Regions from separate parts of the Homo sapiens genome. Here region 1 is linked to region 2. Evidence: fine-mapped expression QTL. A gene starts in region 2. The other region holds a variant in brackets. All regions are shown on one strand. Distances are from middle to middle.

Evidence for each region.
Region 1: its variant is fine-mapped to the expression of UBE2E1 in whole blood (TOPMed, PIP above 0.99).

The regions. Positions count from the first base shown.
Region 1 is chr3:24,078,671-24,083,057 of GRCh38, forward strand. No RefSeq gene overlaps it. Among named protein-coding and RNA genes, the nearest start is that of LINC00691, 22 kb to the right of the region's middle. The variant T/G (reference allele first, on the strand shown) is at 2,639.
Region 2 is chr3:23,803,377-23,807,763 of GRCh38, forward strand. UBE2E1 (ubiquitin conjugating enzyme E2 E1) reads left to right here and starts at 2,579. Exons shown (of 6, transcript NM_003341.5): 1 at 2,579-2,712; 2 at 3,861-4,045. The coding sequence starts at 3,894. UBE2E1-AS1 (UBE2E1 antisense RNA 1) reads right to left here and starts at 3,529. Exons shown (of 2, transcript NR_046652.1): 1 at 3,443-3,529; 2 at 648-1,338. RefSeq lists silencers at 2,515-2,624, 2,705-2,834, 3,025-3,324, 3,525-3,704 and an enhancer at 4,005-4,094.

The DNA of each region.
Region 1 (4,387 bases), 280 kb after region 2:
TGAAGACACTGAGGCTCAAGGGTGTTAAAATGGCTTGTCCAAAGTCACTAACACAGTAAGCATCAGGTCAGATATTTTACTTGAGGCCTCTCTAAATCTTCTGTGTTGTGGAGCTAGGTTTTTATGGCTTTGAAAGTCACACATTTCTTCTTTAGCTAGTATGCTGCTGCTGTTTAACTCTAATTTTACTAAAAATAATTTAAGAGTCTTAGACAGCATTAAAATGACAATGCCTTTTTCTTTTCATTTTATTTTTTTGGTATTTTCTTTTCTTTTTTTAAATTTTATTATTATGATACTTAAAGTTGTAGGGTACATGTGCACAATGTGCAGGTTTGTTATATATGTATACATGTGCCATTTTGGTGTTCTGCACCCATTAACTCGTCATTTAGCATTAGGTATATCTCCTAATGCTATCCCTCCCCCCTCCCCCCACCCCACAACAGTCCCCGGTGTGTGATGTTCCCCTTCCTGTGTCCATGTGTTCTCATTGTTCAATTCCCACCTTTGAGTGAGAACATGCGGTGTTTGGTTTTTTGTCCTTGCGGTAGTTTGCTGAGAATGATGGTTTCCAGCTTCACCCATGTCCCTACAAAGGACATGAACTCATCATTTTTTATGGCTGCATAGTATTCCATGGTGTATATGTGCCACATTTTCTTAATCCAGTCTATCATTGTTGGACATTTGGCTTGGTTCCAAGTCTTTGCTATTGTGAATAGTGCCCCAATAAACATACGTGTGCAAGTGTCTTTATAGCAGCATGATTTATAGTCCTTTGGGTATATACCCAGTAACAGGATGGCTGGGTCAAATGGTATTTCTAGTTCTAGATCCCTGAGGAATCGCCACACTGACTTCCATAATGGTTGAACTAGTTTACAGTCCCACCAACAGTATAAAAGTGTTCCTATTTCTCCACATCCTCTCCAGCACCTGTTGTTTCCTGACTTTTTAAAGATTGCCATTCTAACTGGTGTGAGATGATATCTCATTGTGGTTTTGATTTGCATTTCTCTGATGGCCAGTGATGATGAGCATTTTTTCATGTGTCTTTTGGCTGCATAAATGTCTTCTTTTGAGAAGTGTCTGTTCATATCCTTTGCCCACTTGTTGATGGTGTTGTTTGTTTTTTGTCTTGTAAATTTGTTTGAGTTCATTGTAGATTCTGGATATTAGCCCTTTGTCAGATGAGTAGGTTGCAAAACTTTTCTCCCATTCTGTAGGTTCACTCTGATGGTAGTTTCTTTTGCTGTGCAGAAGCTCTTTAGTTTAATTAGATCCCATTTGTCAATTTTGGCTTTTGTTGACATTGCTTTTGGTGTTTTAGACATGAAGTCCTTGCCCATGCCTATGTCCTGAATGGTATTGCCTAGGTTTTCTTCTAGGGTTTTTATGGTTTTAGGTCTAACATTTAGGTCTTTAATGCATCTTGAATTAATTTTTGTATAAGGTGTAAGGAAGGGATCCAGTTTCAGCTTTCTATGTGTGGCTAGCCAGTATTCCCAGCACCATTTATTAAATAGGGAATCCTTTCCCCATTTCTTGTTTTTGTCAGGTTTGTCAAAGATCAGATAGTTGTAGATAAGCGGCATTATTTCTGAGGGCTCTGTTCTGTTCCATTGGTCTATATCTCTGTTTTGGTACTGGTACCATGCTGTTTTGGTTACTGTAGCCTTGTAGTATAGTTTGAAGTCAGGTAGCATGATGCCTCCAGCTTTGTTCTTTTGGCTTAGGATTGACTTGGCGATGCGGGCTCTTTTTTGGTTCCATATGAACTTTAAAGTAGTTTTTTCCAATTCTGTGAAGAAATTCATTGGTAGCTTGATGGGGATGGCATTGAATCTATAAATTACCTTGGGCAGTATGGCCATTTTCACGATATTGATTCTTCTTACCCATGAGCATGGAATGTTCTTCCATTTGTTTGTGTCCTCTTTTATTTCATTGAGCAGTGGTTTGTAGTTCTCCTTGAAGAGGTCCTTCACATCCCTTGTAAGTTGGATTTCTAGGTATTTTATTCTCTTTGAAGCAATTGTGAATGGGAATTCACTCATGATTTGGCTCTCTGTTTGTCTGTTATTGGTGTATAGGAATGCTTGTGATTTTTGTACATTGATTTTGCATCCTGAGACTTTGCTGAAGTTGCTTATCAGCTTGAGGAGATTTTGGGCTGAGACGATGGGGTTTTCTAGATACACAATCATGTCATCTGCAAACAGGGACAATTTGACTTCCTCTTTTCCTAATTGAATACCCTTTATTTCCTTCTCCTGCCTGATTGCCCTGGCCAGAACTTCCAACACTATGTTGAATAGGAGTGGTGAGAGAGGGCATCCCTGTCTTGTGCCAGTTTTCAAAGGGAATGCTTCCAGTTTTTGCCCATTCAGTATGATATTGGCTGTGGGTTTGTCATAAATAGCTCTTGTTATTTTGAGATACGTCCCATCAATACCTAATTTATTGAGAGTTTTTAGCATGAAGGGTTGTTGAATTTTGTCAAAGGCCTTTTCTGCATCTATTGAGATAATCGTGTGGTTTTTGTATTTGGTTCTGTTCATATGATGGATTACATTTATTGATTTGCACATGTTGAACCAGACTTGCATCCCAGGGATGAAGCCCACTTGATCAT[T/G]GTGGATAAGCTTTTTGATGTGCTGCTGGATTTGGTTTGCCAGTAATTTATTGAGGATTTTTGCATCGATGTTCATCAGGGATATTCGTCTAAAATTCTCTTTTTTTGTTGTGTCTCTGCCAGGCTTCTGTATCAGGATGATGCTGGCCTTATAAAATGAATTAGGGAGGATTCCTTCTTTTTCTATTGATTGGAATAGTTTCAGAAGGAATGGTACCACCTCCTCTTTGTACCTCTGGTAGAATTCGGCTGTGAATCCTTCTGGTCCTGGACTTTTTTTGGTTGGTAAGCTATTAATTATTGCCTCAATTTCAGAGCCTGTTATTGGTCTATTCAGAGATTCAACTTCTTCTTGGTTTAGTCTTGGGAGGATGTATGTGTCCAGGAATTTATCCATTTCTTCTAGATTTTCTAGTTTATTTGCGTAGAGATGTTTGTAGTATTCTCTGATGATAGTTTGTATTTCTGTGGGATCAGTGGTGATATCCCCTTTATCATTTTTTATTGCATCTATTTGATTCTTCTCTGTTTTCTTCTTTGTTGGTCTTGCTAGGGGTCTATCAATTTTGTTGATCCTTTCAAAAAACCAGCTCCTGGATTCATTACTTTTTTGAAGGGTTTTTTGTGTCTCTATTTCCTTCAGTTCTGCTCTGATTTTAGTTATTTCTTGCCTTCTGCTAGCTTTTGAATGTGTTTGCTCTTGCTTTTCTAGTTCTTTTAATTGTGATGTTAGGATGTCAATTTTAGATCTTTCCTGCTTTCTCTTTTGGGCATTTAGTGCTATAAATTTCCCTCTACACACTGCTTTGAATGTGTCCCAGAGATTCTGGTATGTTGTGTCTTTGTTCTCGTTGGTTTCAAAGAACATCTTTATTTCTGCCTTCATTTCATTATGTACCCAGTAGTCATTCAGGAGCAGGTTGTTCAGTTTCCATGTAGCTGAGCGGTGTTGAGTGAGTTTCTTAATCCTGAGTTCTAGTTTGATTGCACTGTGGTCTGAGAGACAGTTTGTTATAATTTCTGTTCTTTTACATTTGCTGAGGAGAGCTTTACTTCCAACCGTGTGGTCAATTTTGGAGTAGGTGTGGTGTGGTGCTGAAAAGAATGTATATTCTGTTGATTAGGGGTGGAGAGTTCTGTAGATGTCTATTAGATCCACTTGGTGCAGAGCTGAGTTCAATTCCTGGATATCCTTGTTAACTTTCTGTTTCATTGATCTGTCTCATGTTGACAGTGGGGTGTTAAAGTCTCCCATTATTATCGTGTGGGGGTCTAAGTCTCTTTGTAGGTCACTCAGGACTTGCTTTATGAATCTGGGTGCTCCTGTGTTGGGTGCATATATATTTAGGATAGTTAGCTCTTCTTGTTGAATTGATCCCTTTACCATTATGTAATGGCCTTCTTTGTCTCTTTTGATCTTTGTTGGTTTGAAGTCTGTTTTATCTGAGACTAGGATTGCAACCCCTGCTTTTTTTTTATTTTCCATTTTCTTGGTAGATCTTCCTCCATCCCTTTATTTTGAGCCTATGTGTGTCTCTGCATGTGAGATGGGTTTCCTGAATACAGCACACTGATGGGTCTTGACTCTTTATCCAATTTGCCAGTCTGTGTCTTTTAATTGGAGCATTTAGCCCATTTACATTGAAAGTTCATATTGTTATGTGTGAATCTGATCCTGTCATTATGATGTTAGCTGATTGTTTTGCTCGATAGTTGATGCAGTTTCTTCCTAGCCTTGACGGTCTTTAC
Region 2 (4,387 bases):
CAACAAATAACCCCAAACCCATGAACTAAGAAAATTCCACTAGAGTGGAATTATTAATAATTTACTTTGCGTAACAGCTAATAAATCACCTTACTTACAGATACATATTTGACCTTGCCAGTCAGTAGAGCACAGGTATTTCTGCCCTTTATGGATGAGGGAACTGAGGCTCAGGGAGGTCAATTTAGCTTTTTAGGCCTTGTAGTTAATAAGAAGGAGAGATAGAAAGTTGTGTATGAATTTTTTTTCCCCTAAGACAGCTGCATACAGGTCTTAAAAATAATTCGACATAAAGATTAGTCTTTTGAGAGGACTGGATTCTTTTCTAAACATTTTGAAGTTTTTATTCCCTGTCATCAGGTCATTCCAAAACGATAAAGCACTAACTTAAGCTAGCTGGAATTAGAGATTAGGGGGAACAGTACACAAAAGAGGGCAAGAAACCTTCCAGACAGGTGGTTGGGAAATCACTTTTCCTTATAGGAGGAGCTGTTAGATTTCATGATTTCTTTCACAAGGAATCAGTCCAACCCAAGCATCAGTAACACAACACAAAATATCATGTTCTGTTACAAAAGAATTCTTATTATAGCTGGTAGGCAATTTATGCAAACCAATATTAAAGAAAAAATTCACCTACTGTCCTGATCACTTCAGCAAATCAAACCTTTTATTTTCCTGTGATCTCTGCTAGTTCTTGTCTTTATAACACATGATTTTTTTACTGGTTGTATTCATAATGTAGACATATATTTTTAAGTATCAGAAATCCAAATTTTCATAGGAGGAAATTTCAATTTTAATAACTATTTTTAGATTATTTTCCTCATCCTGAGTTTATTTCATCTTCTTATTGTTTTCTTCTGAATTTACATCTTTTCATCAGAACAAAAAGAATACAATCAGTTTTTCAGAAGTTTAAAAAATTTTTTCAAATATATAGCAAAGAATGTCATCATTTTTATATACTCTACCAGGACTCCTGAAACCAAACACTTAAGAAAGGTTATGTCTGGAAATTTTTTCAAAATCTATATGCATTTCAGTGGTGGAGAAATAGTTCTGTCTGGAAGCAGGAGGCTGAAATTATGACCCTGAAGATTTCTTCCAGCTTTTGAACTTCTTATTCTATGACAACTCCTGGTAGATACAGGTTTCCTGGTAGGGATTGAGCAAGAAGCATGCACAATTACTTTATGAGTCTTGATAAAGCTGGAATTTCAGGTTGATGGTTAGAAGGAGTTCGGCTGGGTCGTGAGAATGCTTGTTTTCCTGGTTACTGGATATGCCATGGGCTGTATATCTTGTGTTGTCCTGTGGTAACTGAAGCCACTGTTGCTGTGGAAAATGATGGCAGTTTGAATGAGATAATTTAGAGTGACCTATGGAAATCTGAGGCTGTCTCCTTAATGTACAAGACCTTGTATGTGTGGCACTGTTGTATTTGAATGGCACACATCTCTTTAGTTCCCTTCAACTGAAATGACAAAAGGTGAGAAACTGAATCGTAATTTGATGGCTTAATATTAAAAAAAAATTGGCAAAAATGCTAAATAAGGAACAATTCAGAAGAATTGCTGATCATTTCAAAAATATTATTTGCATAGCATTTATAGGTAGCTAAAGAAAGAGAAAAATGGCTTAATATTTTAAAAATAATTTGGTCAATTTAGCGATCTGGGGATTCTGCGATCCCCAGAACTTTGCATCCAATTTCCAAAAACCAAACCTTACATCTAATGTAAAATGACACAAAAAATTCTAAATCCAGTCTAATTCAGTAGTATATAGCTTATTCCCAGTGATGTCTCACATTCGCAAGCCCGTTACACGTTGGTTTTACCTGTCACCAAAACCTTTGTATCACTCTTATAAAAAACCACATCACTTTCTATAAAAAGTGAGTGGAAGAATCTAATATTGTAAAACTGCACGTGCCTCGCGTGACCTGAGCAGAAAATTCCTAGTTTGGGATTTTCTCACAGGCATACCTAAACTGACCTCTGCTCCTAGCAGGTAAATTGCTAGAAGGAGAAGCAAGTGTCAGTCCAAAGAAAACCCTTGTTGTGTGATTTTTTTTTTCTCTTTAATCGCTTTTTAGGTGGAGTACCCGCTGCATTCTCTAAAGTCTTTGCCACCACCAGATTACCAACGTTTTCACCAATTTGCCACCTCCCTACTCCTCTCCTTTCCAAAAGCCCTCATTGGAAAGAACTTTCTCTCGTGACCCCCCTATTCCATCTAGTTCCAATCACTCCCAGCGCCCCCCATCTCCATCGGCTTCCCCTCTCCCGCCCAGAATCCAGGTTCCCAAACCACTTAAGAGAAAATTCACAACCCTCGCCCCCTTCCCGGGCGTCCGGAGGAGGCGCTGGGGTGGGGGTGTCTGTGGGGGACAGGGTTTCCTGGGGTCTCCTGGGTCTTCCTCGCGCACCCCCAGGAGGTGTTGCAGGGGGAGGGGAGCGCGGGTGGGTGGGACCGGGCCGGGTGGGGGAGGGGTGAGGGCGAGGAGGAGGAGGAGGAGGAGGCGGCGGCGGAGGAGTGGTGTGTGTGCGAGCGTGTGTGGCTGGGGGAAGCCATTGCCTGTTTAATAGTTGCTGTTGCTGCACTTCCGCTTCTCTCCCAGCGAGAGAGAGACACGAGTGGCCAGGCCCAGCCGCAGCCGCAGCAGCAGCCGCCGCGGCGGCACGGAGGAGCCAGACACAAAGAGAGGTACGGGGATCCCCCCAGCGGCCCGCCGCCCCCCGGCCGCGCCGCCGGGCCTCGGGGACACCCCTCGCCGCCTCCCCCGACTCGCGCCGCCGGGGCCGCCGGGCCGCAGGGCACGGGGCCGGCGCGGGGGGGGAGCGGAGAGGGGCTGGGGAGCCCCAGGGGTCCGGGGCCCGCCCGCGGGGGATGGGCAGGGACCCCGGGCCGCGTGGGGTGCGGGGGCCGCCCGCATTGAGGACGGGGGTCATTGTGGCTCGAACTGTCAGCGCTGCCCCAAGAGCCCCCCACTGGCCACCGAGGGGCCCGGGAGCGGGGGTGGGAGGGAGTTGGGGGAGCCCCGTTTTCCCCAGGGGCGGGGGTTCGCGGGGATTAACCCCTCCGGGGCGGAAGGGCTCATTGTTATGTCTTCGCTGCGGAGGCCGACCCCCCCATTCCCCGCCGCAGCCCCTATCCCCCTACAGGAGTGGCGATCGGGCGTGTGCTCCGGACCCCCGCCCGGCCGCATAGCTGTGAGCAGGGCGGCCAGAGGCAGGCAGGCCGGGAGGGGCGTCGGGGCGCGGCGCGGGGGGGCCTCGGGCCTCGTCGCCCCTGCCCCCCGCCGGCCTCTCCCTTCCCCCACCCGGGCACCCGCTCCCCGCCTCCGTCCCCCTGTTTCGGCTTCCTCTCTTACTCCTTCCCGCCCCTCCTCTCTTCCCGACCTCGCCAAACTCCGCTCGTGGCCCCACAGTCTCACCCGGGCCACCGGCCCCTCACGACCCCCGGAAAGCGGACAAAAACAGCCCCGAGGCCGGCCGGCCGCCGGGACCTTCCCTCCCTGCCCCGCCGTGGCGCCCCGCGCCCCCCGCCCTGCCCTCCTTCGCCTCCCGGGCTACTCCCTCCCTGCCCAGCGGAGAGCCCCGGGGGGCGAGGGAGGGGCCTCTCTCCTAGCTCCAGACCGTTTTCCCACAGCGTTCCCCACTTGGGGCCAAAAATAAACAAGCCGCGTCCGATTTGCAAAAGCCTTAATGGGCCTGCAGACTTTGAAAAGCGAGTGGAGGGCGGTGGGCGGCCGCGTGCGCCCCTGGTCAATGCCCTCCTGACAGCACCCGAGTTCCTTATTTACACTGGCTGCATGGTTTGTGTGTTTCTGTTTTGTTTCTCTCCCCCTGCAGGGGCTGTTTGCGGGGTGGGGTGGGGGGTTCGCTATGTCGGATGACGATTCGAGGGCCAGCACCAGCTCCTCCTCATCTTCGTCTTCCAACCAGCAAACCGAGAAAGAAACAAACACCCCCAAGAAGAAGGAGAGTAAAGTCAGCATGAGCAAAAACTCCAAACTCCTCTCCACCAGCGCCAAGAGGTACTGTGCTCTTTTTTTTTTCCACAGGCTTCCTATTTCCGAACTGCCTCTTGCTGCATTTGGTCTGCCTCCCAATGAGGATAGCTTAAACGCTCCTCATGGTTTATGTGTTCTTAAAAATGAAAGAAGGGCCTTGGAAGCCCTAATTATTTTCTCTATTGCTGCTTCTGTTTTTAAATCATTGCTCACATGCAGCTGTTGCGGCTTGCCTCTCGCATTTCTTGCTGAAGTTTGTAAGATTCCTCGTTACTTTTATTAGTGACCCCCAAATCTGATTTCAGATTTCTTGTCCTACTAATGGTTAATCTGTGACCTTCCCCAAGGCCATGATCCCATTTCTTA